Regions from separate parts of the Homo sapiens genome. Here regions 1 and 3 are each linked to region 2. Evidence: fine-mapped expression QTL. A gene starts in region 2. Each other region holds a variant in brackets. All regions are shown on one strand. Distances are between the middles of the regions.

Region 1 (2,811 bases), 49 kb after region 2:
AGAGATGCCAGGATTTGAACCATCTTTGTCAGATTCCAGAACCTACAGTTCTCAGCCACTATGCTATGCATGGATGAGGGGTGGATGACATCCTGAACAGAACTCTGGCTTTGACAATGAACAGAGGCAGGTTCCTGGCTATGCCTCTCCCTGCTTCTCTTCAATCCTCAAGCAAGAAAAGAGCAGGGAGGGATAATTTCTACTTTGCTGGTTTGTTAAAATGTAAGTAATAATATTTTAAAAGCACCTCCCTCATCAAAGGCACTCAGCCAGTGGTGGCTTGTTAAAACTATTCACCATCACCCTCACTAGAGGTGAGCTGCCAGTAGCAATGATGGCTGCACATTGCAGCAAGGATCTTCCCAGCAGAAGTGACACCCACTGGCCATGGGGAGCCTGTACCTCTCTGTCTGTCACCTTGCACTTTGTAGGCCTTCCAGCAGGGTCTGTCTCTGGCCTGAAGGTCCCACGCAACACCACAGACAAGGCAGCAACTGAACACACAAGTCAACCGATGGATCTGAACGACTCGCAGTAACCCATCAATTCAGTGAAACAACTACTATTGATTTCTGGGGGTTTTCCACCCCACTGGTTGTTTAACTGAATTGATGGGTGTTCTGTGGAACTGATTGCACCAGCCAGTTCTTTTAGTGTGATAGAGGCAAAACGCTAGTATGTTTCCCAGAAAATGAATGAATCTGCTCGTTAAAGAGAATGTTCTGCCAAATAATTTTTTCCAATGACAGTGGTTTTCCTTCTCCGCTTCTTCTGCATAGGGATTGGGAAGCATTTAAGGGGCTTTCATTGCATGTCAATATGCTGATAAGCTGGCCCCTTTCAATTTCCTCACAGTTCTCAGGGACTGATTAGATGCCAGAATGAATCCACCAATCTCCCTCTCTCCACACGCAGACTTTTGCCAGTTCTGAGTCATTGTGTTTCATATGTTCCCCACCACCCCCACCAATCATGTGCATCAAAGCTGATTTTCCCCACTAAATGAAAATGCAGACTCTTAGGCAAGTCAACAGTATGCCAACTCTCAGGGCTGATGATTTACACACCTATGATTTATATTTTCTTCCCCGGAGGTTGCTTTTTGTGGATTTCAGACAGCACCACACTTGTTTTCAATGACAGTGATTAAAAAAACAGATGTCAGGATGAGGACTAGGGAACAGTGTGGGGGATAGAATGACAAGAAAATAAAGAGGCTGATCAAGAGCAGTCTGAAACCTTTCCTTGAGTCACTGAGCTTTTATGCTTCCCCCAGCCATGGGGAGAGACAGGCTTTTCCATTTCAGGAAAACATAGATTATAGAAAATATATAGATTAGAGTTGAATTTTCGTTGACTTTCAAAAAACAATCTCT[C/G]TCTTTGGGCTGTTGCCACTGTCATTGTTATTCCACTGCTGTGCTGAGATCTCAGGGTTATTGAAATTGGTGATGCAAGTAAAATTCTCACATACAATAAAAGAGAAATAGATCCGAAGGACATGGAGTCTCACTCGCCATAAAGCTCCATTAAGTCAGCTGACTCCGAATATGCAATGTATATTTTGCATTTTTATGCATTTTATACAGCATGAAGTGTCTCGTTTCTGGCAACTCATATGTAAGACAGTGTATTAGTTCATTTTGACGCTGCTGATAAAGACATACTGAAACTGGGAACAAAAAGAGGTTTAATTGGACTTACAGTTCCACATGGCTAGGGAAACTCTCACAATCATGGCGGAGGGTGAAAGATACTTCTTACGTGGCAGCAGCAAGAGAGAATGAGAGAAGGAGCAAAAGCAGAAACCCCTGATAAACCCATCAGATCTTGTGAGACTTACTCACTATCTCGAGAATAGCATGGGAAACACTGGCTCCCATGATTCAATTACCTCCCCCTGGGTCCCTCCCACAACACGTGGGACTTATGTGAGATACAATTCAAGTTGAGATTTGGGTGGGGACACAGCCAAACCATATCAGACAGTATTGACATTAAGGGTCACACAGTGTGGGGTGACACAATGCCAATGTTTAGAAATTTGATTTGTGGGACGAGAATGGTGGCTCACGCCTGGAATCCCAGCATTTTGGGAGGCCGAGGCAGGCAGATCACCTGAGGTCAGGAGTTTGAGACTTGGCAAACATGGTGAAACCCCATTTCTACTAAAAATACAAATAATTAGCTGCGCATGGTGGCGCAAGCCTGTAATCCCAGCTACTCGGGAGGCTGAGGCAGGAGAGTCAATGAACCTGGGAGACGGAGGTTGCAGTGAGCCGTGATTGCACCATTGCACTCCAGCTTGGGCAACAAGAGCAAAACTCCGTCTCAAAAATAAATAAATAAATAAATTTGATTTGCTTCTGCATATTGACATACTTTATGGTACACAAAAGATGAGCCAGGAAGCAAGCCTCCCTCATTGAAAACAAATGAGGAATTGTGAATTTGACTATAAGGCACTAGAAAGTAGACAATTTCTCAGTGGTACGAGAAGAGCATCCCTCAAAGTGGCAGGTATAAAATAAGTGGGAATACCTATAAATGATTAAAAACTCTTAGCAAACTAGAAATATAAAGGAAATTCCTTAACCTGATTTTTTAAATTATCTATTAAAATCCTACAGCAAATGCTATTTCTAATGGCAATCACTGAAAGTATTCTTTCTGAAATAAAAAACAGGGCAAGGAAACCTGTGACCAGCACCTCTAGCCAACATTGTATTGGAGATCCTGCCAGCATAGTAAGAAAAAGAAAGAAAACCTACAAAGATTGGAAACAAGAAAAAAAAAAAAAACAAAAAACTGCCA
Region 2 (2,811 bases):
AAAAAAAATTTTAATTAGCCGCGTGTGGTGGCAGGTGCCTGTAGTCCCAGCTACTTGGGAAGCTGAGGTGGCAGGATCACTTGAGTCCAGGAGGTTGAGGTTGCAGTGAGCTATGATCATGCCACTGCACTCCAGCCTGAGCAACAGAGGAGACTCTGTCTCTAAATAAATACAAGTCTGAGGAAATAAAGGAAAGAGTAACTGAATGAATTGCCGGCTCATAATTAAAATTAGGTGACCTAGCACCTAGAGGTGGGTCACTGAGCCTCGGTTTTCCCTTCTGTGATACTGAAGGAGTTCCTCCCCACCTACTGTACTGGCTTTATTGTGACGCTCAAGAAAAGTTGGTATATACAAAACACTGCAATAAGCATAAACAAAGAGATAAATGCAAATTATTTCTTTCACTCATTTCATGCTTGTGACTGTCTGGAGACCTCCAGTGCCCAAAGCCATCCGGGAATCTCCCAAGAGACACAGACTCTCTCCGTGTCTATGCCTGAGCCACCACATGCCTGGTCTGAGGTACAGATGGAGGAATTTTCCAGTTGTTTGGCTTGCGTGGGGCTAAGCACCTCAATATTTGAAAACATCTAGTCATGTGATGATTTCACTTTTCACCAGGATTTTTAGATGTGACAACAATAATTTTTTAAAAACCAACAATTTGTTGAAAAATGATTTGCTGTCATCCAAATGCCATGCAAGCATTATCTCACCTATAACACTGGGAAGGAATTGATAGATGTGCAATGCAAATATGGTGCCGCCTGACACCAAAACCCATGTCTTCCCCACCGAGCTGCTCTGTGGACACCACTACCTGCTCCTTTTTGCTTCCTGGGTATTAAAAATAAACATGGATCAAGAAACTACCAATCAGGCACTATGCTTATTACCTGGGTGACAAAATAATCTGTACACCAAACCCTTGTGACACACAGTTTACCTATATAACAAACCTGCATGTGTACCCCTGAACCTAAAATAAAGTTAATAATAAATAAATGAGTAATAAACATGGGCTTAGCCACCCTTCCCCAGGCTGGGGATATGGCCGCATAAAGCATCTGAGGACTATTGCGCCGCGGCTCAGAATGTGTCAGATTAATTAAGCCATGCAGAGGTAGGAAGAAGCTTTCAAACAGTTGCCCAAGGCTCTCAGAAAAACCCTCATCTAAATTGTACTGCTCAGCAGCACTTACCTTTATTTCTTTGGGAGTAGACCGGACAGGAGTCTTTTTCCCTCCCTTGGAGGATTTGGAGGAGGTTGAGGAAATCCCCTGGGTGCGGTGGGGCTTCAGATCACTGAAGCTGCTGAGATATTTTTTGCGCAAGGCCAGCAGCTCCTGCAGGTACTGCAGGCAGTCCTGGGTGCGCGAATACATCCACGCCCGGTCCTCCTCCTGCCGCAGGTAGTACAGGCTGGTGTCCATGCTACTGGTGCTTTTGTACTTCTTTAAGGACTCGCTGAATTTCTCCCCGTGGTCCCCGACCACATACATGGAACTGCTTCGAATCAGCTTCACTGCGGGGCTGGCTCCTTCGTAGAAGGGGCTCTCGGCCGCCGTCTTTCTCTGTGGGCTGGAGTTAAAGATGGAGTGGATCTTTCTGAACATAGTGCTCGATTTCTTTCTGTGGGTACCTTCCAGCTGCCTGTGCTGCCGCCACTTGATCTAGATGCGGGGAGAGAAGCCGACATCCAGGCCTCGCACCATCTGCCTTCCAGGAGGCCTCTGATCTCTAGGATCCCAGGGAGCACCGGCTTGATCAGGTGGGTAACCTGCACATCTCCCATGGGGGATGTTTACATCCTATAACCAAGAGGCCATAAACAACCCGAAGATAGAAGGTGGCGCACTGTGAACTTAAAAATGAGTGCCCTGGCTGGCTTTATGAAGCATTGAGTGCAAATACCTTCAGTGCTCTCCCGTGGAAGGCCCCAGCTGGATGAAGAAAGTGGGACAGAGCTTTGCCTGCTCAGTTATTTTCTTTCCTTTTCACTTTCCATCGCTGGCCATGGTCTCACTCAGTTTGAGTTGATCTTGGTGTGAATTTTTACCTTTCCACCTGGGCTGAGCTGACTCCGGTTCTGAATTCTCTGAATCCAAAATGAAATTCTACTTAGCAGGGACAGCCCTTACCCAAAAATCATGTGTTGCTCAGGGTAAAATCTAGTCCCCCGAGATGGGCCAGGGTGGACACACCAGGGCGTTGACAGGAGCTCGCAGATCCCCCCGATAAGCTGGGCTCTGAGCAGGCATCTGAGCGTCCTGGAAGAGCCTCGCCCTGCGGTAATGGACCTCACAGCCGTTACCGGATAGCAGCCCATTGTGGAGGCAGGAGGAGGATTCAGATATCCGGACCACGACTTTTTGCACAGAAGCATCAGTGAGCTGAAGGGTGGCCACATTTGTGGGGCAGACACTTTCTTTAGCCCGAGCACATTTTTAACTTAGACTAGTTAACATCAGACATAAACTGTTTTTTCAAGAGGGCTGTAGGAATCTATTAGAATTCCAGAGATGTTCTCTGTAGCATTTTTCTCAGGCAGATGCTAAACATTGTTATTTTGTTCATTCTTCTATGCAGTCTATTTCTCTCCTAGACTACAGTCTGAGAGTACAAGCCTGCACCAGTCTCTAGGTCAGGCATTTTCTTAAGCTATGAGCTAAGAGAAAGTATGAGCCCCCAGAAATTGTATGTAAAGCATTACTGAATGAATGTATTAGCATGGTTTATTTTTGCTGTTTGCTCTGTGTGTGTGTGGGGTGTGTGTGTGTTTTAAGAGAAAGAAAAGATTCACGGTTT
Region 3 (2,649 bases), 61 kb after region 2:
CCTTAGTGGCAAGTCCCGCTTTCCTAGGGGGCAAGAAGCCCCCAGTTGCTTATTTCCACACCCCAACCTCTTATCTCTGTGCCCCAATCCCTTATTTCCGCACCCTGACCTCTTATCTCTGTGCCCCCATCCCTTATTTCCGTGCCCCAACCCCTTCTCTGCTTTTCTGGAGGGCAAGAACCCCCCAACCCTTCTCCGTGTCTCTTTTCTCTGGGCTTGCCTCCTTCACTATGGGTAAGCTTCCACCCTCCATTCCTCCTTCTCCTCCCTTAGCCTGTGTTCTCAAAAACTTAAAACCTCTTCAACTCACACCTGACCTAAAACCTAAATGACTTATTTTCTTCTGCAATGCCGTTTGACCCCAATACAAACTCGACAGTAGTTCCAAATAGCCAGAAAATGGCACTTTGAATTTTTCCATCCTGCAAAATCTAAATAATTCTTGTCGTAAAATAGGCAAACGGTCTGAGGTGCCTGACGTCCAGGCATTCTTTTACACATCAGTCCCTTCCTAGTCTCTGTGACCAGTGCAACTCGTCCCAAATCTTCCTTCTTTCCCTCCCGCCTGTCCCCTCAGTACCAACCCCAAGCGTCGCTGAGTCTTTCTAATCTTCCTTTTCTACAGACCCATCTGACCTCTCCCTTCCTCCCCAGGCTGCTCCTGGCCAGGCCGAGCTAGGTCCCAATTCTTCCTCAGCCTCTGCTCCTCCACCCTATAATCTTTTTATCACCTCCCCTCCTCACACCTGGTCGGGCTTACAGTTTCGTTCGGTGACTAGCCCTCCCCCACCTGCCCAGCAATTTACTCTTAAAAAGGTGGCTGGAGCTAAAGGCATAGTCAAGGTTAATGCTCCTTTTTCTTTACCCCAAATCAGATAGCGTTTAGGCTCTTTTTCATCAAATATAAAAATCCAGCCCAGTTCATGGCTTGTTTGGCAGCAACCCTGAGACGCTTTACAGCCCTAGACCCTAAAAGGTCAAAAGGCCGTCTTATGCTCAATATACATTTTATTACCCAATCTGCTCCCGATATTAAATAAAACTCCAAAAATTAAATTCTGGCCCTCAAACCCCACAACAGGATTTAATTAACCTCACCTTCAAGGTGTACCATAATAGAAAAAAGTTGCAATTCCTTGCCTCCACTGTGAGACAAACCCCAGCCACGTCTCCAGCACACAAGAACTTCCAAACGCCTGAACCGCAGCGGCCAGGCGTTCCTCCAGAACCTCCTCCCACAGGAGCTTGCTACACGTGCCAGAAATCTGGCCACTGGGCCAAGGAATGCCCGCAGCCTGGGATTCCTCCTAAGCCGCGTCCCATCTGTGTGGGACCCCACTGAAAATCGGACTGTTCAACTCACCTGGCAGCCACTCCCAGAGCCCCTGGAACTCTGGCCCA[A/C]GCCTCTCTGACTGACTCCTTCCCAGATCTTCTCGGCTTAGCGGCTGAAGACTGACACTGCCGGATCACCTCGGAAGCCCCCTAGACAGTCACTGACGCCGAGCTTCAGGTAACTCTCACAGTGGAAGGTAAGCCCGTCCCCTTCTTAATCAATACGGAGGCTACTCACTCCACATTACCCTCTTTTCAAGGGCCTGTTTCCCTTGCCTCCATAACTGTTGTGGGTATTGACGGCCAGGCAAACCTCTTAAAACTCCCCAACTCTGGTGCCAACTTAGACAATACTCTTTTAAGCACTCCTTTTTAGTCATCCCCACCTGCCCAGTTCCCTTATTAGGCCGAGACACTTTAACTAAATTATCTGCTTCCCTGACTATTCCTGGACTACAGCTATATCTCATTGCCGCCCTTCTTCCCAATTCAAAGCCTCCTTTGCGTCCTCCTCTTCTATCCCCCCACCTTAACCCACAAGTATAAGATACCTCTACTCCCTCCTTGGCGACCGATCATGCACCCCTTACCATCTCATTAAAACCTAATCACCCTTACCCCACTCAACGCCAATATCCCATCCCGCAGCACGCTTTAAAAAGATTAAAGCCTGTTATCACTCGCCTGCTACAGCATGGCCTTTTAAAGCCTATAAACTCTCCTTACAATTCCCCCATTTTACCTGTCCTAAAACCAGACAAGCCTTACAAGTTAGTTCAGGATCTGCACCTTATCAACCAAATTGTTTTGCCTATCCACCCCGTGGTGCCAAACCCGTATACTCTCCTGTCCTCAATACCTGCCTCTACAACCCATTATTCTGTTCTAGATCTCAAACATGCTTTCTTTACTATTCCTTTGCACCCTTAATCCCAGCCTCTCTTTGCTTTCACTTGGACTGACCCTGACACCCATCAAGCTCAGCAAATTACCTAGGCTGTACTGCCGCAAAGCTTCTCAGACAGCCCCCATTACTTCAATCAAGCCCAAATTTCTTCCTCATCTGTTACCTATCTCGGCATAATTCTCATAAAAACACACGTGCTCTCCCTGCCAATCGCGTCCGACTGATCTCTCAAACCCAAGCACCTTCTATAAAACAACAACTCCTTTCCTTCCTAGGCGTGGTTAGCGCGGTCAGAATTCTTACACAAGAGCCAGGACCACACCCTGTAGCCTTTCTGTCCAAACAACTTGACCTTACTGTTTTAGCCTAGCCCTCATGTCTGCGTGCAGCGGCTGCCGCTGCTTTAATAC

Evidence for each region. PIP is the estimated chance that this variant, and not a neighbour inherited with it, causes the effect.
Region 1: its variant is fine-mapped to the expression of C13orf42 in testis (GTEx, PIP above 0.99).
Region 3: its variant is fine-mapped to the expression of C13orf42 in lung (TOPMed, PIP above 0.99). The same link has a PIP of 0.9 or more in subcutaneous fat.

Annotation. Positions count from the first base shown.
Region 1 is chr13:51,158,180-51,160,990 of GRCh38, forward strand. It overlaps a transcript of C13orf42 not described here. Among named protein-coding and RNA genes, the nearest start is that of C13orf42, 48 kb to the left of the region's middle. The variant C/G (reference allele first, on the strand shown) is at 1,377.
Region 2 is chr13:51,109,591-51,112,401 of GRCh38, forward strand. C13orf42 (chromosome 13 open reading frame 42) reads right to left here and starts at 1,684. Exons shown (of 4, transcript NM_001351589.3): 1 at 1,206-1,684. The coding sequence starts at 1,619. RefSeq lists an enhancer at 942-2,141.
Region 3 is chr13:51,170,890-51,173,538 of GRCh38, forward strand. It overlaps a transcript of C13orf42 not described here. Among named protein-coding and RNA genes, the nearest start is that of FAM124A, 50 kb to the right of the region's middle. RefSeq lists an enhancer at 1-175. The variant A/C (reference allele first, on the strand shown) is at 1,402.